4 separate regions of the Homo sapiens genome follow, and regions 1, 2 and 4 are each reported to be linked to region 3. Evidence: microRNA targets listed by miRTarBase, many of them from high-throughput screens and not tested one by one. Region 3 holds a microRNA gene; each other region holds the end of a gene's coding sequence. Distances are between the middles of the regions.

Region 1 (5,067 bases), not on the chromosome of region 3:
TCCCAGGCTGGGTCAGACAGCGCGGTCAGGACGCACCCCTCGGGCCAGGCCAGGCAGGGCCGACCCTTTGCTCCCTGCTCTGACGGTGCAGAATGAGAAGAGGCAGGAGTCTCCGGGGCATGTGCGCACATGGCCCCGCCCACGCCGTCTAGCCTGCAGGTTGGCCTTTGTGCACAGGTCACTCTGCCTGGAAAGTGGTGGCAGGGGTGGTGGCACGGCTCCCTGTAACCCTCTGCCTGAGTGAGCGCCTGCTGCCCAGGGCCGCCTCAGCCAGGCACCCCCCGGGGCTGCAGTGGCCACCTCAAAGTTCCCTCTGCATCCAGACCCTTCCCATCCGAGCCACAAAGCCAACAGCCATGTAGCCTCTGGGCCCAGCTGGGAGCAGCTCCAAAGTGTGGGGAACAGGCCCTGCCCCGCCAGTCGCCGGCACATGCCTCGGAGCCTGGTGTCCCCCAAGCTCACTGCCCACCAGGCTTGGGGAGGCCCAGGTGCTCATTTTGGGGACATGTGCCCCAGTGACAGAGGAGCTCTCCCTCTGTATGGCAGGTCACAGCCCCAGACCTGTCAACAGGAAGAGCAAAGAGTGGAGGCAGTGGGGAGACTGGCCGTTGGGGGCCCCCGCTTCATGGCAGTGCAAGACACAGCGGGCTCCAGGAACTTGGCAGCCAGGACGGGTAGCAGGGCACGCCTGTGTGTCCTGAGGGGCAAACAGGAGTGGCACAGGTCCCAAGCCCAGCGGCCAGAGTAGGGGTGACCACCGGGGTTCCTGCAGCCACAGCCAGAGGGGCCCCAGGGGCCTAGCACCAGCCTGGGGGTGCCAGGGAGCCTGCCTTTCTTCGCTAGATTTGCTGACCACACAGCGCCCTCTCTGGGGGCAGCCACTCACCCACCCACCCACCCACCCACAAGGGAACAAGGCTTTGGTGGCAGCAGGATGGACCCTGAGGCCTAACCCTCACTTGTGGACCCTGGCCTCTGCATAGCGGACTCTGTGAGGCAGGTGAGTGGCACTCAGGAGGTGTGGAGGTGGCCTAGGGTCTGAGGGCAGGGACTGCCAGGCTTACCCCAGGGGGTTGGGCCAGAACCTAGCCCGGCTTCATGACCACACCATGGGGGCAGTAGCACTGAGATGAAGAAGAGCCCCATCGTCTGCCCTGACATGGCGTGAGACAGCAAGCAGGAAGCCTGCTGGCCGGGCCTGGACCTCTTGACACTGCCATCCACATGGGCTGGCCATGGCCAGGCACCAGCCAGGCCTGAAAAGGTGCAAGGTCCCCTAAGTGGGGGGTTATGACTGAGTATGGGGTGGAGGGAGGCCATGAACTCCCAGTGGGCTCAGGACACTGGATGGCGAGCTCAGGGTGGGGGGCGGCAGGCCCGCCCACCATGGACACACGCAGGCAACTGCAGAGGCTCTCAGCTCAACCCATGCACACTTGGTGCATGAATGATCCCTGAGTGCCACCCCTCCACCTCCAACAGCCACACACCCTTACACGGGCATGGAGGCCAGACTACGTCCTGTGAGACTCCAAGCCAGATGCATCTCCCGGAGGTTACAGGGGCTTCCCCAGAATCTGGGGAACACATTGGCACAGCCAGAAAGGGCCAGGCCTGTGGGACACTTCCTGCAGAAGTAACTGGGCAACCCAGCCCCACCTATGACACCCGCTATACCTGCCGCACCTACTTACTGCTCACCCTATGCCTGATGGGCTCCTGTGGGCCTCAGGACAGCCCCTGCCAGGCCCTTGCCTGGGGCCCCCTCCTCAGCTGCTGATGCTATTTTCTATCTCTTGTCCTGGGGGGCAGCCTGGATCATTTCTTCTCACCTGTCTTCTAGTTCACAAATTCTCTCTTTAGCAGTGTCTAAGCGTGGCTGCCAAACTACTTCTGGAGTGTTTGGTTTGAAGGCTGTATTTTTTTTTCCATTTCTAGAAGTTCTACTTGGTGCTAGGTTGAAGTTTGGCCTATCAGCTTTTCCAAGCCATCTTTGAGCACAGCAAGCTTTTTACAATCCATGTCTGAGAATTCCAGTACACTCGGATGCCTCTGCACACATTTCTCATGGCTTTCGATCATGGTGCCAGGTTCCCGTGTACTTGGTTTGATTGTGGTCTACTCACTGACCTGGAAAACTCATTCATGAGGTGTACAGATGTCTAGGACAAAGGTGATTTGCATTTGGTTCTACCAGGAACCTAGGGAACTGCAAGTTAGGTACACACCGTTTAAAAGGAAACTCAAAGCCTGCCGTCTTTTTGGCCAACCTGGTGGTGGGAACATGGGCTTCAGGTCCACACGAGTCATGGTGTACACGACTCCTCAGTGGCTGCCCTTCTGCCTGAACTGCCTGGCCAACCCCTTGGGGCCACGGCAGGAGGTGGGTTTAACCCTTGCCCCCACCCTGAGGGCACAAGCCTTGGGCTTGTGAGCAACTGATGGCAAGCAGGGTCTCCTACCAGCTCCTCTGTGTGTCCCTGCAGACCTGGCTCAATACAATGGAGAAGCCGATGGGAGGACTCCAGCCGGAGTGAGGGAGACTGTCCCTCTAGTGCACACCATAGCTCATTTGCATGGCTTCCTGGAGTCCACAGCAGCAGTGCTCAACAACAGACATCCAGAGTAACTTCTGCAGCAACGAGCGGGTCTTAAGGAATTACCAGGTCAAAATTTTTATTCGTTCATTCATTTATTCATTTGTTCTGCCTGTGCAAGGCAGCCTCACTCCCAGGCTGTCAGCAGGACTTTTTTTTTCTCTTTTGTACAGATCTGGTTCTTGGCTTTGCTCCTTGACTCAGTTGACCTCCTACCCCTCACAGCAGGGTAAAGACTTGCACATCACTGACAGGCGGCTCGGAGTCAGCCTTGGAGTCGGCCTTCCATGCCCAGCCCTGAGGCCACCATGCCACGTTCCAGTTGGCTCAAGCAGTGAGGGGCAAAACCAGCTCCAGGGCCAGGTGGAAGGGCTGCTTCTCTCCTGCCTCCATCAAATGCTGACCTTGCCTCTGAATGACCAAGCAAAACAAAGGAATAAATGAATGAATAAAAATTTTGACCTGTTAATTCCTTAAGACCTTGATACGTATTCGTGGGTAAGCAATTTTATACTATTTTATAAAACTGTTTTCAGCTGTTTTAGTCAGGGTCGGGTGCCAGGCACCTAGACACCCCCCTCCCCATTCCCAGGAAGGTTTTGGCCAAACCTGCATCCACCACCTTGGCATGCCAACGCATTCGAGGCCCTGGCAGGCCCCGACTCAACAGAACCGTCTCGCCCTCTACAGCCACCACAGCCACGTGGGCCAATACCCAGCACGCGCCCCACTGCCCCAAGCCTCTCTGCCGGCGTGGCTCTCCCCCAACCTCACTCTCAATACAAAAGGGACAGCACCGAAAGAACAAGGGAGGCCGGAATGGTGGCATTATTCAATCAAATATACAGAGTGCTTCCTTTAATATGTACACATTTACAAAAATGCACTTTCACGAGGAGGGGCGGCCGGGGCCGGCAGGTGGGCAGCGCCTGGTGCCACGGCACGCGTGGACAGTTGCGAGGGGTCTGTGTGAAGGCACTTGTCACGAGCTTCAATACTGCCGCCGTCCCAGGATGGGAGAACTGCGCAGCAGGAAGGGCACTTCTGAAAGCACAGTGGAGAGATCGCTGGAGCGGGCGTTCTGGGCAGGAGGAAGCACAGACGGCAGGCAGGGTGGACTGGCCAGCAAGCGCGAGGTTGACCTGCCAGCCTTGGGCCACGCCGATGACCTCAGGCCCCACTAACAACCACAGGTGCGTCAACAGCCACGGGCCGTGCCGGCAGCCAGGGCCACATCAATAACCAGGGTCCCACCGACCACCGTAGGTCCCACCGACAGCCACAGGTCCCATTGACAGCCACGAGTCCCACCGACAGCCACAGGCCACACCATCAGCCACGGGTCCCACCAACAGCCATGGGCCACACCAACACAGCCATGGGTCTCACCGGCACTTTGGCCTGGAGCCACAGAGAAACCCGAGTGAGGAATAAAAGGAAGATTCTGTAAACAGTGCACAACCTCTGGTAACAAACGCTACGATTTGGTGACGACGCAGACACCCTTTGCTCTCTCCTTTCATACAGCGAGTGCCACGCACGGAAACTTTACAAAAATAGCAACTATCCGAGAATACTCCATTGTTTTCAGCCTGACAGTTACTGAATAATTTATACAAGGTTAAAGAAACGTAGAAAATAAACATTTGGTTTTTGTTTTTGGTGGTTTTTTTACACAAAATAAAGAAACTATGCACATGGCCTCGGCCTCCGGGTCCGGCAGACGGCATGGCTCCCACCGAGGGCCCTGGGTCCCGGCCCAGCTGGCAGCCGCCCCTACTCCTTGCCGGCGTAGCGGGCCTCATTGATGCTCCTGACCGCGCGGTTGTCCACTTTGGGGCCTGAGGCCCAGTGGGCCGGCCTCCCCGGCGAGCGGCCAGGATCTTTGGTGAATTTGTGTGAGAGGAACTTCTCCGCCTCCAGGGAGTCCTCCTCACCGCGGCCCAGATCCTCGTCCTCCTCATCCTCCCTGACGGCCGCGTGGCCGGCCGGCCCGGGCAGCGCCTCGTCCGCCCTGCGCGGCGGCGGCGTGAAGTTCTTGCACTGGTAGAGCACGTCCTTGTGGCCCCCCGGCCGCTCAATGGGGTTGCGGATGGGGTTGAGCGGGGCCCACTGGTTGTTGGCGCTCTCCTCCCGCGGCAGCCGGCTCCTCTCCCGCTCTTTCCTGCGCTTGCGTGTCCACCACACGCACAGGACCACGCACGCCAGCCACAGCACGCTGAAGGCACCACACAGCACAGGCACCAGCAGACCTGGGGACCGGGGAGAAGAGCCGGTGGGCAATGAGGCCTGGGCACCTGCGGGGCACTAGCCACACACCCAGGCCTGGGAGGGCCCTGCGGGCCAGGCGGCCGGGCCCCACCCTCCGGTTGCTGGCTCGTGGGGAGGGTCCCAGGACGGGGGCTGGGAAGGTCAGGTTGTGGGGCTGGGCGGCTGGGGCAGCAGGTGCCAGGGACTTCTGTGTTCCTGG
Region 2 (5,067 bases), 120 Mb from region 3:
AAGACTCAGGCATCCTTCTTCCTTCCAACTTTCCTTTTCTTCCTCTTCTTTGTCCATCTAGATCTGTCAAGGGATTGTGGGCACACAGCAGAGCCATGACAGATGGGCAGTGCACTGTAATCTACTGCTGCCTTTCAATTTCAGAGGGATCATTGTGACAATGAAGGGGTTAAAACTGTCAACACCTATCAGAGCTTGGAGATAATTAGTGTAATATAAACCCAAGAACTTTGATGGCAAAGACCACACAGCAAATGAATTCGACTAGGTTGCTGCTTTGTAAGAAATACTTAATTAACCTCTTTCCAGCTCACGTGCAACTATGGTTTTTACATGCCTATGTGAAAAAGTTACTGTTTATACATACAGATGATAATGATTAAATATGACTGTGAATCATTTTTACTTTGGAAGATGCATTTCAAACTAGCACTTGCAGCTACAAGTTGAAAAGATAAGTGCTCTTCCAGCATGAGATAGGTCGCCTTTGGAATGTCTCACAATGTATTGACTATTGCTCTAGTACTAACGTTGCTAACGTGTAGTACTGAGTAATGTGACTTAGGAATGCAAACTATTACAAGGTATATTTTTATCTAACCATTTTTTTTTAAGTTTCCACCTCTTAGAAGGAACATAAAAGGAAAATAAAGTAGGCCTTTTTAAACAAAATATAGGCTTGACAAGGATAAAATGCATTCTTTTTTAATTAGCTTGAAAGAGAAAATTGATAGATAACAAGCAAAAACTCTTAGGGCTGTTCTTCAAAAGTCCATGTGGTAAGCAGAAAGGGACAAGAATGACTTAAAAATAGGAGCAGAAATCCATGATGGACTAGGGGAAGAATGGGTAAAGGAGAACTTCAATAACCCAGATATGTTCAAATCCACAGGTCCCAATGGCTGGCATCCTAGAGTACTTAATGAATTGGCCGAAGTCATCACAGAGCCGCTAGATATCATTTTTGAGACCTCGTGGAGGACTGATGAGGTGCCTGAAGACTGGAAAAGGGCATATTTAGAACCTTCTTTCAAAAAGGGAAATGGATGATGACCCTGGAAATACTCATCAGCTTAACTTTTTGCTTGGACAAATTCTGGAATAATCAACTTAGTAAACTGGGTAACTGGCTTATAACAGCTAGAAATAAGGCAGTGAACTATCACGCATAAAGAAGTATTGAGTTCATTTTTTTAAGAAGATATCATGATGAGATACAGTCTTATGCATTTCTTGGCATTCTCCCTTCCATTCTTAATGAAAACAGATGAGGTTGGCTAAGGCATTTGAGTCATAACTTAGTTTAAGTACAATATAACAAAAAGGTAGATTTCTGACAGTAAGTAGTAATTATATTATTTCCAAATTTGCTTTTAACTTGAGAACAGTAGCTTTAATTTTTATATTCAAGCATACATTCTACTTCATTTCATATAGGACCATGTTTTTATAAGATAAGATACATAATTCTATGTAGAATAGTTTGGTGAAGGAATTCTTATTTTAAGGTGCTTTTATATAGTTATTTTGTATATTGGTACAATGTTAAAGGTGATGAATTAAGGAACATCACCAAGAGAGGACAATTTCTTCTAACTTCTCTTTTTAAATTTAATCTGGCTGAGGTTTAGTATTAGGACTAATACAAGTGTCTTGCTCTGACATGCATCAAGCAAGAGCTAGCTATTTTACTTCATAGCTAGTTTCTTGCACTCTGTGGAGACTGCCAGGGCCGCAGCTCACAGCCTGTTCTGAGCTGCAGTGCTTTATCCCACCTTGCTCTCCAGGCTTCTGACTTCAGGCCTGTGGGGGCCGGGAGGTGGGCAGCGGCAGTGGCCTGAGGAGCCCTGTAGAACTACGGCTGAAAAAGAAAGTAGATTGAGGTGGGGGGAGGAAATTAACAGGAATCTAGAGTTTTTCTAATTCTTATCGTCTTATCGTTCTTGTGTTTGGATGCTGGTAGTTTTTTTTTTTTTAGACAGAGTCTCGCTCTGTCACCCAGGCTGGAGTGTAGTGGCACAATCTTGGCTCACAGTGACTTTCGCCTCCCAGGTTCAAGGAATTCTCCTGCCTCGGCCTCTTGGTAGCTGGGATTACAGGCACGCATCACCACACCCAGCTAATTTTTTTGTATTTTTAGTAGAGATGGGGTTTTACCATGTTGGCCAGGCTGTTCTTGAACTCCTGGCCTCAAATGATCCACTCGCCGTGGCCTCCAGTAGCGCTGGGATTACAGGCGTGAGCCATCACACCCGGCCTGGATGCTGGTAGTTTTATTTTCTGCTTAGAAAACGCAACCATGTTGATGGGACCAAAAACTTAGTTGAAAGAAGCCATGGCAAAAGATGTTGACGTACAACTGGCTCCTGAGGCTGTCAATTGTTTAGAGCTCCCAAGTAGTACTGCATTACGGAATCTACTACTTAGAAGAATGTACAAGATGTAAGTTCCCATCGGCACCGTCATGGTAAGAAGAATAAGAAACTCTCAAAGGAAAAGAAACTTACATTCACTTTTTCCTGGTCCATTTTGGTTCCTAAGAATAGATAGGCCATTAAGAAGGATATTAGGTTTCTAAGGACAATTTTAACACAATACTGCTTTAAAAATCTGAAGTTTAAATAGTTTAGCTATTTCTGTAGGTTAATTCAGGCACTGACTAAAATCAGTCTCATTATCATATACAAATGTAAGGAAGTTAAATTTTAAAAGCATGTATAGGTTGTCCTTAAATTATACAAAAGCTTTTAGTTTCATCAGGATTATATTCCAGTTAACCTTTCATCTTTTTTTTTTTTCCAAATGAACTAGGGTCTTTAAAATTCCTAAGTAGATTCTTTTGAGTGGTAGGGGAGTCTGTATAGATTACAGATATAATTTATTGTGATAACAAATGGCTTCCTGTTTGACCTCATTTCCAGGTGTCGCATCCGTGGCTGATTTATTTCACAGATGTACATTTGCATGTACTTGTTGAACTTTGCTAGGAAGGACTCAATTTTTGAAAAATCTGTTATTTTCACTGTGGGCCTTATGAGGCAATCTACTGCAATGGAAAAAGGGTTCCTTGGTCATTTCAAGTTTTATTTTCTATTAGAGTAATATCTAACTTCAATTATTTTGCCAGGTTTAAACCTTCTCTCTGTGTCTGTGGTTAGAATTTGAAAATAACAATGCTCTGCTTAAAGTAAGAGTCACAGTCAGCAAAAAAAGCCAATGGATTTTAAAAAGACATCTTAGTTAAAGCTAGAGGAAGAAAACTTCAAATAAGCAAAGAAGTATTGAAGGATGCCCACGAATTCCTTTGCATTAAAATCAAGATGAGGTAAGAGGTAGAATATAAGAGAAAGGGATTATTTTTACCATGAATTGTATCTGGGGACAGTTAGTCTTAGAAGGAGTAATTTTTTCAGCGTTTTTCCTCTGTATCTAAACACCAATAATATACTTAATTTTTGAATATAAAAGAAGTAGCAATTGACTAAGAATAAATATGTTATAAAAACTAGGGGATTATCTTGATTTACATTTCCTAGAGTATTAAAAGAGATTAATTACAGACTTTCACTTGATAATATTGAGGAGTCTGGAGGGTCATAGCAAAATTTTCTTTAGTTCATCTTAAAATTTAGGGAGGTAAAAAAAGATTTTATTCACATAAAAGATTTCTTGGCATAGGGAAGGCGTAATGTTAAGGGCTTCTTCCTTACCCAAGTGGGAGCTGAACCAGTAATTGTGGGGAAAACTGAATTTATAGCAACAAAGGATAGTAGTTTCTCAACTGGGAGCATACGAGCAATTTCTCAGTTCAGAGATATTTATAGCATCTTGGTGTTATGCAATAAACAATGACAACAACAAGCATTGAGCTTTCACTTTGGAGTTACTCAGATCTGAGTTTAAATTCTAAAATTATTCTAGTAGTATTTTCCTGCGGTGAATCTGTTAAGGATGTAAGCTATAGTGTAGCTTGGGGAATCATCTTGAACAGTTATGAAACTCATTAAAGCTTCTTTTCCCTTGTCTGTAAAATGGGAAAAATAAATACCTCTATAGCTCTTAAGAGGCTTAAGAGTTCTATGGCTTACACCCACATACAGTCCTTGGCTCAGTGCTAGGCATGTAGCAGGTGCTGACTGCCTCTCTCCCTTCCCTTCTTTACTCTCAGTTGTCTTATTTCTTCTTATGCAGAAGAGATTACCTTAAAGCTGACTAGAAAACTCAGACATAAATTGACATTTCCTTATCATTGCCTGAAACCCACTGAATAAGTCCCCTTTGATTTCTCTCAGGAAGGATAAAAAAGGCTACAGTACCTGCTCATAGGAGTTCAGTAAATGTTTATTGATTGAATGAAAAGAATTTGATTTAAGGAAACAATAACACTCCATCCTGGGCAACAGAGCAAGATCCCGTCTCAAAACAAAACAAAACAAAACAAAACAGCAAATTCATAAAGGCCAGCAGTTTTCAAGTCTGGGGAAATAGGCACATGGACAGATTATATGAAGGTATTTCATTAGCTTTCTTCTCTTTATGGCAGCTTCAGATTGATGAATTTGAGGTACAAATGAGTGAGTGACATATGTATATTTTCCTCTGATTTTATGACTGATTTACAAATTAGGAGTGCAAATGGGCTGTTCCCCGATAGCATCTTCTGGGAAGAATCCAACCAAGATACAAAGCAGATGATGGTGGATCGGCAAACTCTTTTCTATGAAAAGAAAAACCAGATATACCAGGGACTGGAAAGCACCTGCTTGAAAATTGATATGAGCATGTCTGAATTTTTCCCTTATAAGAGCCTGAGTATTGTAACAGGTCTCTTGCACAGGGGGTTGAAAAATAAAAAAAGAAGTTAACATAATTAAAATGCTTGGACAAAACATTTGCTTTATATAGATTCTTACAAGTAATATTTGATTAGGTATCAAAATAGGTTTAGGCAGGTGGAAGTTCTGAATTTCAAGGCAAATAAGGCATGAAGGGTGGAACATTGCATCTAGGGAAAATAAGAGAAATAAGTGAAAGTCTGACCCTACATTGCCAATTCTCAGACCAAGT
Region 3 (5,070 bases):
GCGCCGGCAGCGGGGCTCAGAAACAGGCAGCGAGACCCATGAGAGTGATCTGGCTCCTTCAGACAAGGAGGCTCCCACACCCAAGGAGGGAACACTCACCCAGGTCCCTCTCGCTCCCCCACCACCAGGAGCCCCACCTTCACCAGCCCCAGCCCGCTTCACTGCCCGGGGTGGGCGAGTCTTCACTCCCAGAGGGGTGCCATCTCGCCGGGGCCGAGGAGGAGGGAGGCCCCCTCCTCAAGTTTGCCCAGGCTGGAGCCCTCCAGCCAAGTCTCTGGCTCCCAAGAAACCTCCCACAGGCCCTTTGCCACCAAGTAAGGAGCCTTTGAAAGAGAAGTTGATCCCAGGGCCTCTGTCCCCTGTGGCGCGCGGAGGCAGCAATGGAGGTAGCAATGTGGGCATGGAAGATGGGGAGCGACCCCGAAGGAGGCGACATGGGAGGGCTCAGCAGCAGGATAAACCGCCTCGTTTCCGGAGGCTGAAGCAGGAACGGGAGAATGCCGCAAGGGGGTCTGAGGGCAAGCCCTCCCTAACCCTTCCAGCCTCCGCTCCTGGACCTGAGGAGGCCCTCACAACAGTCACAGTGGCCCCAGCACCTCGCCGGGCAGCTGCCAAGTCTCCTGATCTGTCAAACCAGAACTCAGACCAAGCCAATGAGGAATGGGAGACTGCATCAGAGAGCAGTGACTTCACCAGTGAGCGCCGAGGGGACAAAGAGGCACCCCCACCAGTACTGCTGACACCCAAGGCTGTGGGAACTCCTGGGGGAGGTGGAGGTGGAGCCGTACCAGGTATTTCAGCCATGTCCCGCGGAGATCTGAGCCAGAGAGCCAAGGATTTGAGTAAACGGAGCTTCTCAAGTCAGCGGCCAGGCATGGAACGGCAGAATCGGCGCCCTGGCCCAGGGGGCAAGGCTGGCAGCAGTGGCAGCAGCAGTGGAGGAGGCGGTGGGGGTCCTGGAGGAAGGACCGGGCCAGGACGAGGCGACAAGAGGAGCTGGCCCTCTCCCAAGAACCGAAGGTGGGTAGGAACAAACAAATTTATTGTGGTTTAAAAATTGGAGGAGGGGGAAAAAGCCTGAGGGAAAGATAAGTTTGGGTGGAGTGGAGATTGTGGCCTGAGGGGCCATGGGCTCTAGAATGTCAGTAGGATTTCCATGTCTGGCTAAGGCAACTGGAAAGCGGTTGGTAGGGTGTTAGAGTCAAGAACACCCACCTATGTATTCATTGCTGGTTCTTTGCTTTCCAGTCTGTGCATCTGTATGCATAGGAATCCTTAGAAGGACTCAAAAACACCTGGACTTTAATAGGGAAGAGAATAGGTTGTAAGCAGAAGTTGGGAAACATAACTTGTGGGAAAAAGTAACGATTTAGTGGATACTGGAGCTAATGCTCTGTTTTCTCCAGTCGTCCTCCAGAGGAGCGTCCCCCGGGGCTTCCCCTGCCTCCCCCACCTCCCAGCAGTTCTGCTGTCTTCCGCCTGGACCAAGTTATCCACAGCAACCCTGCTGGCATCCAACAGGCTCTGGCCCAGCTTAGTAGCCGTCAAGGGAGTGTAACTGCACCAGGGGGTCATCCAAGGCACAAGCCTGGGCTTCCCCAAGCCCCTCAGGGCCCCTCTCCTAGGCCCCCAACCCGATACGAGCCCCAGAGGGTCAACAGCGGCCTCAGTTCTGGTAAGCTGGAGGGGTTATGGGTGGGAATATCTCCATCCCCAGAGAAGGTCAAGTGCTGGAGGGAGCGGGTGGAGAACCTGGCCTAGGGACCCTGCTGCTGGGTGCGTTTCTGCAGGGAGCAAGGGTAGAAGAATTGGGAGGTGGAGTAGAGAGGAAAAGTTAGGGTCAGTGGCAGAGCCAGGCAGATGCTGACCCTTTTTCTCTTTCCCAGACCCCCACTTTGAGGAGCCGGGGCCAATGGTGAGAGGGGTGGGTGGGACTCCTCGGGACTCTGCCGGGGTTAGTCCCTTTCCCCCTAAACGTCGGGAGCGGCCTCCCAGAAAACCAGAGCTGCTACAGGAGGTAAGGGATGGGTTTGAGATTGTGCTTCACTGCACTCTTACTCGTGAAAATTCTTCTGGGTTATGTTTTCTCTGTTTTCTTTCCTGTTTCTTTCACTGTGTTTTTACTCCAGAATTCTCAGTATTAGTCTCCCATGTGTCTCCCTTGTTGTCCCCACACCCTGTGTCACCCCACTCTGTCCTGGCTTCCTATAATTCCCAATTCCCACCCAATTCATGTTTTGCTTCTGGCCCTTCTCATCTGTAGGAATCTTTGCCACCTCCTCATAGCTCTGGATTCTTGGGCTCTAAGCCTGAGGGCCCAGGCCCTCAGGCAGAGTCCAGAGATACAGGCACAGAGGCCCTGACCCCTCACATCTGGAACCGTTTACATACTGGTGAGTAAAGCTGAGTGAAAGGACTATGGTAGAAGGGTTAAGAATGAGAGGGGCTTCTGAACTGTCATCTCCTCACTTCTCTTCTGGTTGGTGCTCCCTTCTCCAGCCACTAGCCGAAAGAGTTACCGGCCCAGCTCCATGGAGCCTTGGATGGAGCCCCTGAGTCCTTTTGAGGATGTGGCTGGCACAGAAGTGAGTGAGGGTGGGAGGGTGTGTCTGAGCTGGGACTTTTTTGAGCACTGGTCATACCCCCCACCTGCTCTGGGTTGAGTCTGGAGCTGTTCTCTCACTTGGCTGTCCCCTTTCTGCAGTTTGTATGTGTGCATCAGTCAGGTATTGGGGTGCTTTCTACCCTGACTTAACTAGCTCCTTCTCCACTCCTCTCAGATGAGTCAGTCTGACAGTGGGGTGGACCTGAGTGGGGATTCTCAGGTGTCATCAGGTCCCTGCAGCCAGCGAAGTTCCCCTGATGGAGGACTCAAGGGGGCAGCAGAGGGACCCCCCAAGAGGCCTGGAGGCTCCTCACCCCTGAATGCTGTTCCTTGTGAGGGTCCACCTGGCTCTGAACCTCCTAGGAGACCACCACCTGCCCCCCACGATGGGGACAGAAAGGTAAAAGACCAAAAAAGGATAAGGGGAATGTTTCCAGGAATCTGACTTTGGCCCTACCTTTTTCTGCTTTTTCTCTCTGCGTGTGTGTTCTGGGCATTCCAATTTGGATTTCCCTTTCCCTCCCCCAATGCACTTTACTGTGTGCCCAATCCAGGAGCTGCCCCGGGAGCAGCCTCTGCCCCCTGGCCCCATTGGCACAGAACGATCACAGCGTACAGACCGAGGCACAGAGCCTGGCCCCATTCGGCCATCCCATCGACCTGGTCCCCCAGTCCAGTTTGGCACTAGTGACAAGGTCTGTGTGGGCTGGATCTGGGTATCCTGAGTTGGGTGGAGAGAAGGGAAGGACTAAAGGTGGGACATAGAGGACACATGTCTGTCACGGGACAATGTCTCCTGCCTTCTTGTGATCACAGGACTCAGACTTACGCCTAGTGGTAGGAGACAGCTTGAAAGCAGAGAAGGAGCTAACAGCATCAGTCACTGAGGTAAGTGGGAGTAAGAGTTTGGTGGAAAGGCCCAAGATTTCTGGGGAAGATTGCTGGGAGTGACCAGGGCGTCCAGGATGCCAGACATCCCTCTCCACGAGGCCTCTCCTTCCCAGGCCATTCCTGTATCACGAGACTGGGAGCTGCTTCCCAGTGCTGCTGCCTCTGCTGAGCCACAATCCAAGAACCTGGATTCTGGGCACTGTGTCCCGGAGCCCAGCTCCTCAGGCCAGCGCCTGTATCCTGAGGTTTTCTATGGCAGTGCTGGGCCTTCCAGTTCTCAGGTAGGCCCCGCTTCCCATTGCATGACCCCTTCAGTGAATAATAATTTTTTTCTGCCTGGTATGTATTTATAATCAAGCCTTTCTACGTTGCAGAGTTGTGAGATACCACTTTGTCACATCATTTTTCTCCCTACTTTTTGCTTCTATGGGTGGGATGGTGATCTTTTTTCTTGACCACAGATACTAAAGCTGTTTCAACCGTGCTCCTCTCCTGCAGATCTCTGGGGGAGCCATGGACTCTCAATTACATCCAAACAGTGGAGGCTTCCGCCCTGGGACACCCTCACTGCACCCTTACAGGTAAGACTCGATGCCTGTGGATCACAGAAGTACTTGGAGATGTGTTTCGGGGAGAGGGAAGGGGAAGACACAGTTCTAGGGTACTAGAAGCTAGTGGACTTAAGGCATTGCTAGGACTCTGGCTTCCTAACAGCTTTTCTCCCCACAATTTATTTTCAGATCACAGCCCCTATACCTACCCCCCGGCCCAGCCCCTCCCTCAGCACTGCTCTCTGGGTTAGCTCTCAAGGGCCAGTTTCTGGATTTCTCCACAATGCAAGCTACAGAGCTGGGGAAGTTGCCGGCTGGAGGAGTTCTCTACCCTCCACCTTCCTTCCTCTACTCTCCGGCTTTCTGCCCCAGTCCTTTGCCTGACACATCGTTGCTTCAGGTAAGAGGGGGGCAGGTATTAGATATTGGGGGATAGGGTAGGGAGAATGATTTTGTGGGGGTTGATATATTTCTCCCTGTTTCCCGACAGGTACGCCAGGATCTGCCATCCCCTTCGGATTTTTATTCTACTCCTCTGCAGCCTGGTGGCCAAAGTGGCTTTCTCCCTTCAGGGGCTCCTGCCCAGCAGGTATATTGTATCTTCACACTTCCCCTTCATTTGATTTCTCTGTCCAGTTGCTGGCTTTGATTTTCCCTGGTTTTCTGACATTCCTCCCTGCCCCCAACATGCACACCCAAATTTCTTGTTACAGATGCTTCTACCCATGGTAGACTCACAGCTGCCTGTGGTGAACTTTGGCTCCCTGCCGCCAGCACCACCTCCTGCCCCACCTCCCCTTTCTCTGTTACCTGTGGGCCCTGCTCTGCAGCCCCCCAGCCTGGCTGTGCGGCCCCCACCTGCTCCTGCTACTCGGGTGCTGCCTTCACCTGCCAGGCCCTTCCCCGCTAGCTTGGGGCGAGCAGAGGTAAGGTACAGGAACTGAGGGGCTAGGGAGCGCCAAGACTTGGGAGTAGGGATTCTGTATTTCAAGGTAGGCAGCTCATGATTTTTTTCCCCTCAGC
Region 4 (5,067 bases), not on the chromosome of region 3:
TCTCCATGTAATCACACTTAGTTATGAGCAAAGCAGTGAGAAAGTTGAGGTGATAAACAACTTTGCAGCATTAATGTAACAAAAAGTTTCAGTATTTGTCAGGAAAACAAAAGCTTAGGCTGTTAAATAAAAGCTATTCTATTTTGGTAAGTTGAAATTCAAGAATGTATATATAATTTCTTAAATGTAAGAGTGCATTAAATCAAATACAAAAATTGGTTTTTCAATGCATCATTATTTATTGCCATAACAAATTGTTTGGTCCAAAATGAAAGCTATATTCAGAAGGTTTGCACCTCAAAATTGAGTAATAATTAATGAAATGTCTGTACAAAATAAAGTGCAAGCAGTGTAAAATTGAAGTCTGTCTTTGTTTCAAAATGATTAAGATTAAATGATGAAATAATATTTTATAGCCACTGCATTGGATACTTGGATTGTTTTTCAAGCATCTTCTTATGACTAAATCTTCTGTTTCATTCTGTTTTAAATCTAAAAAGTAAAATGATGGTCACTTGGAATCTGCTCTATATTTTAATTATAGTCTCTTCTGTTTATAAACAATAACTTACACATATTTTTCATAGTTTTAAGTAAAGATTAAATAATGCCATCTTAGAAAGGATCTGTTTAACCTATATTATAAAAGTTAGATACACAATTTGGTACATTAAATGAAAATGTCATTTGCATATATAGAACCTGTTCTGTTTTACACAGTATCATAATAGCTACAGCTACTACAAGAAATATGGTTAATGGAAGTCAAACATTTAGTACGATGCTTAAAGAGTTACTTTAATAATGCCCTCTTATTTTTCTAGTTAGATAGCAACTATATTTCCCAGACAAGCAAGAAAATATATGGGGCATTTTTTATAAATTTAAAAGTAGCTAGCACAATCCAACCACGCAACTTTTTTTGAAATAGCTTGCAATGCTATGATTCCAAAGTGATCAAGGTACTTGAAGAGCAAAAATGGCTTGAATAGAATGGAAATGTAGGCAAGTGGACAGATAGCATCTAGATTGAATTTGTTACAGGTGGTATATTAGCAAAGAAATAGAAAAATGAAATGGAAGAAATATACCAATTCCCATTATTTCATGTAAAAAGAATGGCTAATTTAACTACAGATGTTAGCACATGAAGACATTGTTTTAAAGTTTTTTTTCTTATAGTATCTTTGTCTGGGTAATACTGGTCAAATAAAATGAGTTGGGAAGTATTTCCTCCTCTTCTGTTTCCTGGAAGAGATTGTTTAGAATTGATATTATTTCTCCCTTAAGTGTTTGGTAAAATTCATCACGGAAGTTATCTGGGCCTGTAGTTTTCTTTACTGGAAGGTTTTTAACTTAACCACAAACTCAATTTCCTTAATAAATATGGTTCTGTTTAGGTTATCTGTTTCTACAGTGAGCTTTCTAGTTTGTATCCTATAGGGAATCTGTTTCATCTAAGTTGTTAAATATACAATCCTTGAGTTGGTCATGGTGTTTTCTAGTTAGCCTTTTAATAACTATAGTGTCTGTAGTGTATTCCCTTTCATTTCTGACACTGAATTTGTATCTTCTGTTTTTCTAGGCAGTCAGCTAGAAGCTTATCTTATTGCTCTAAAAGCATTTTTAATGCACTCAAGATAGTTATGCTAGAAACTTTAACTTCTTATTCAACACTGAATATGAGTGACTAATTTTTAATTAAGGATCTATTTTGCTTTTTATATCACAGTAATGACTTCTATGTGTTAGTAGTAGTACTTCGTTCTGTGTAATACTGGAATACTAGGAGTTCATTCTAACTTAATGAAAATCAAAGTTGGCTTAGATGGAATATGAATTTAACTTCTGAGGGCCGAAGACTTAAATTGTGCTCTTTTTAAATTCTGCAGAACTATATATCTTCATACAGATCTTCGTTGTAGCTTTGTTTGGCCCAGGTGCTTAGGTGTTTGCAGGTCTGAGAAACCTCTAACCTAGTGTTCCTCTAAATTAGAGTCCTTGGATCTGTATCAAAACCACCTAGTGTACTGTTTAAAAATGGCCATTCCTAGGCCTTATTACAGGACCTACTGTATCAGAATTGAACACGTGGCCCTGAATCTGCATCTTTAATGAATTATCCAGGTGATTCTTACAATGAAGTTATAGAACTACTGTTCTAATGTCACAAAGGAGAAAGAGAAAAGTTGGATTTTAAACTTCAAGATACAAAATAATTAGTCTCTTAGTCTCTTTTTCTTTTTTTTTTTTTTTTTGAAATGGAGTCTTGCTCTGTCACCCAGGCTGGAGTGCAGTGGCGCAATCTTGGCTCACTGCAACCTCTGCCTCTCAGGTTCGAGCAATTCTCATGCTTCAGCCTCCCAAGTAGCTGGGACTACGGGTGCCCGCCACCAAGCCAGGCTAATTTTTGTATTTTCAGTAGAGGTGGGTTTCACCATGTTGGCCAGGCTGGTCTCAAACTCCTGACCTCAGGTGATCCCCCCTGCCTTGGCCTCCCAAAGTGCTGGGATTACAGGCATGAGCCACAGCGCCCGGCCAATTAGTCTTTTGATAAGGGTTCTATAAGGCCTAATCATCTGCATTATTACTCATTTAATTGTATATTACTTCCTGGCCAGGCACAGTGGCTCACACCTCTAATCCCAGCACTTTGAGGGGCCAAGATGGGCAGATCACTTGAGGTCAGGAGTTCGAGACCAGCCTGGCCGATACGGTGGAACTCTCTCCATTAAAAACAAAAATTAGCGGCCAGGCACGGTGGCTCACGCCTGTAATCCCAGCATTTGGGAGGCCAAGGCAGGCGGATCACGAGGTCAAGAGATTGAGACAATCCTGGCAAACATGGTGAAACCCCGTCTCTACTAAAAATACAAAAATTAGCTGGGCATGGTGACACGTGCCTGTAATCCCAGCTACTCAGGAGGCTGAGGCAGGAGAATCACTTGAACCCGGGAGGCAGAGGTTGCAGTGAGCCGCGATTGCGCCACTGCACTCCAGCCTGGCGACAGAGAGAGACTCCATCTCAAGAAAAAAAAAAAAAAAATTAGCTGGGCGTGGTGGTGGGCGCCCGTAATCCCAGCTACTTGGGAGCTTAAGGCTCGAGAATCACTTGAATCCAGGAGGTGGAGGTTGCAGTGAGCTGACATTGCAACACCACTCTAGCCTGGCAAAAGAGTAAGACTCCATCTCAAAAAAACCCCACAAAATTTATATTACTTCCTTTTTCAGTTTTCCCTCGTAAAACTTGTGAAGTCATTACATGTCAGCACCAATTTCATTATTAATAAACAAAAAATATACTCTAGTTGGAATTAAACTCTCATCATCAATGTAGTTAGACCCATGCAATTAATACCTAATGCCCCTTTTCTCCACTAACTAATATGGCATCTAATTTATAATAAAATATTTTAAGTCTCCTGTTATATTTAAATTGCATCAAATTTAAATTATGTTAATTATAAGACTGGCATGCCAAGCCAAATTATCACAGAAGATTACATGAACAAGCAATGTTAGTGATAGATGCTTTTTGTTATCCATCAAATAATTACTAAGTTTTCTTTTTAAAAAAAATCAGTGTTTATGGGCACACAATTAAATACCATTTAGAAAATCCTTAACTTAGGACCAGGTCACTGGCTTAGTTAAAGTATATTTATATTTGATAGTTTCCAAGGTAAGGTTACCATTGGGGAAATTGTGATAATTAAGTCAAACAGTTGTACCACTGACCTAACCAGTACATTAAGGATTTCTAAATGTATCTTATTGTGTATTTAGCATAAGTGGCCATGCTAATATTATCAATACCAAACTGCAGACAAGATTAGTTAAGAACTATGCAGAAAACCTGAGCATCCTACCTTTACTTTCTATACATTCGCATTACCAATTTTTTCTTTTCAAAACATCCCTTGCATCAAGTGCTACTTTCTAACAGCTCTTAAGATTCTCTGTTCACCAGAACAAGCAACATTAAAGATAACATTGGTTCCCATGTTATATATTCATTACTAATAGCACTTATCAAAGCTAAACCTAGATAATATTCCTTCTTTCCTGACATACTGCTCAGTGGCAAGTACACTTCTTCTCAACCAGCATAGGAAACCTTTCCTTTGGGTCATTTCCCTTCTCAAAAAACTTTGCTTAAGGGAAATTGGAGCTAAAGAGCTTACCAACAAATAGCCCTACTAGAGTTCAATAAATATGCTTTGCTATTAAGTCTAATATACAAATATGATAGAAGTTTGAAAATGGAACCTTATCCCAGTGCTATATTGGCACGTAACATGGCTAGTGATCATTTCAAAAGGAGTCATGTTATGTTTTGAGTTTGTTTGTGATAAACCTATTGTCTAAACAGATTTATTCTTTAAGAATATACACAAGAGGTTTTCCTCCATTATTTTCACACATCAGATATGGTGTTTGGTTTTTTGAAGGAGGGAGGGGGTACTATCTACAACAAATACTTCATTCATAGCCATAAACCATTTGTATCTTGGGCTTGAGCCCCTGGTTAAATCAGGAATGCTCTTCAGCGCTGCTGCTGAATGATCTGCTCCGGATGTGATTTCTCAGTTGCTCTATAAGTTCAGGATTTTGTTGCTGTATCTGCTGAGCAAACTGCTGTCCCCTGTAGTAAAGAGGCAATGTGGTTTGAATAGGGAATTGCCAGTCACATTTACCCACGCAAAAAGAAATGCAGAAAATGTAGGAGCTACCTAAAGGGGGCTTTTTTCTATAAAAACAAGTTTCAGAGCCATGACTTTAGAATCTACAAGTTTACCAATGCCTCCATATAGCATTATTACAATGCAGTGTTCTTTATAAGAAACAAAACACCCATGCTAAAAAAAATAAGTACCTCAACTGGGTGAAATCTACTTCTCTAGTGCTAATGACAAAGAAGCAAAGGGTAAGACGTATATGTTTTTATTGTATGTGCTCAAATACAATGCTTTTATACCCAAGTCTTAATAGTCTCATATAACACCCAGTTTGGGATGCTTTTGGAGGTCACCTAACAAGTAATTTTAAAAACACTAAGAAGTTTAA

What was found. Region 3 holds the annotated microRNA hsa-miR-6832-3p (ACCCUUUUUCUCUUUCCCAG, at 1,867-1,886, shown strand). A microRNA usually pairs through its seed, bases 2 to 8, with sites in the 3' UTR of a target mRNA and lowers its output. Matches are read on the target gene's strand: a 7mer-m8 pairs with bases 2 to 8, a 7mer-A1 pairs with bases 2 to 7 and ends in A, and an 8mer does both.
Region 1: miRTarBase lists JAG2 as a target of hsa-miR-6832-3p. The part of its 3' UTR that is shown has no 7-base or 8-base seed match.
Region 2: miRTarBase lists SAMD5 as a target of hsa-miR-6832-3p. Seed matches in the 3' UTR shown: 7mer-m8 at 1,006-1,012, 8mer at 1,034-1,041, 7mer-m8 at 3,057-3,063 and 7mer-A1 at 3,347-3,353.
Region 4: miRTarBase lists SGTB as a target of hsa-miR-6832-3p. Seed matches in the 3' UTR shown: 7mer-m8 at 3,366-3,372 and 7mer-A1 at 1,541-1,547.

Annotation. Positions count from the first base shown.
Region 1 is chr14:105,138,322-105,143,388 of GRCh38, forward strand. It overlaps JAG2 (jagged canonical Notch ligand 2), which reads right to left. Exons shown (of 26, transcript NM_002226.5): 26 at 2,674-4,849. The coding sequence ends at 4,374. Among named protein-coding and RNA genes, the nearest start is that of MIR6765, 10 kb to the right of the region's middle.
Region 2 is chr6:147,563,502-147,568,568 of GRCh38, forward strand. It overlaps SAMD5 (sterile alpha motif domain containing 5), which reads left to right. Exons shown (of 2, transcript NM_001030060.3): 2 at 893-5,067. The coding sequence ends at 955. Among named protein-coding and RNA genes, the nearest start is that of SAMD5, 57 kb to the left of the region's middle.
Region 3 is chr6:31,631,973-31,637,042 of GRCh38, forward strand. It overlaps MIR6832 (microRNA 6832), which reads left to right and starts at 1,815; the gene lies at 1,815-1,886. It overlaps PRRC2A (proline rich coiled-coil 2A), which reads left to right. Exons shown (of 31, transcript NM_004638.4): 16 at 1-1,020; 17 at 1,407-1,675; 18 at 1,887-2,017; 19 at 2,264-2,393; 20 at 2,500-2,585; 21 at 2,781-3,005; 22 at 3,160-3,300; 23 at 3,422-3,493; 24 at 3,610-3,777; 25 at 3,995-4,077; 26 at 4,237-4,447; 27 at 4,538-4,636; 28 at 4,761-4,973; 29 at 5,070. RefSeq lists a silencer at 2,707-2,870.
Region 4 is chr5:65,665,713-65,670,779 of GRCh38, forward strand. It overlaps SGTB (small glutamine rich tetratricopeptide repeat co-chaperone beta), which reads right to left. Exons shown (of 11, transcript NM_019072.3): 11 at 216-4,645. The coding sequence ends at 4,534. It overlaps TRAPPC13 (trafficking protein particle complex subunit 13), which reads left to right. Exons shown (of 13, transcript NM_024941.4): 13 at 1-521. Among named protein-coding and RNA genes, the nearest start is that of TRAPPC13, 43 kb to the left of the region's middle.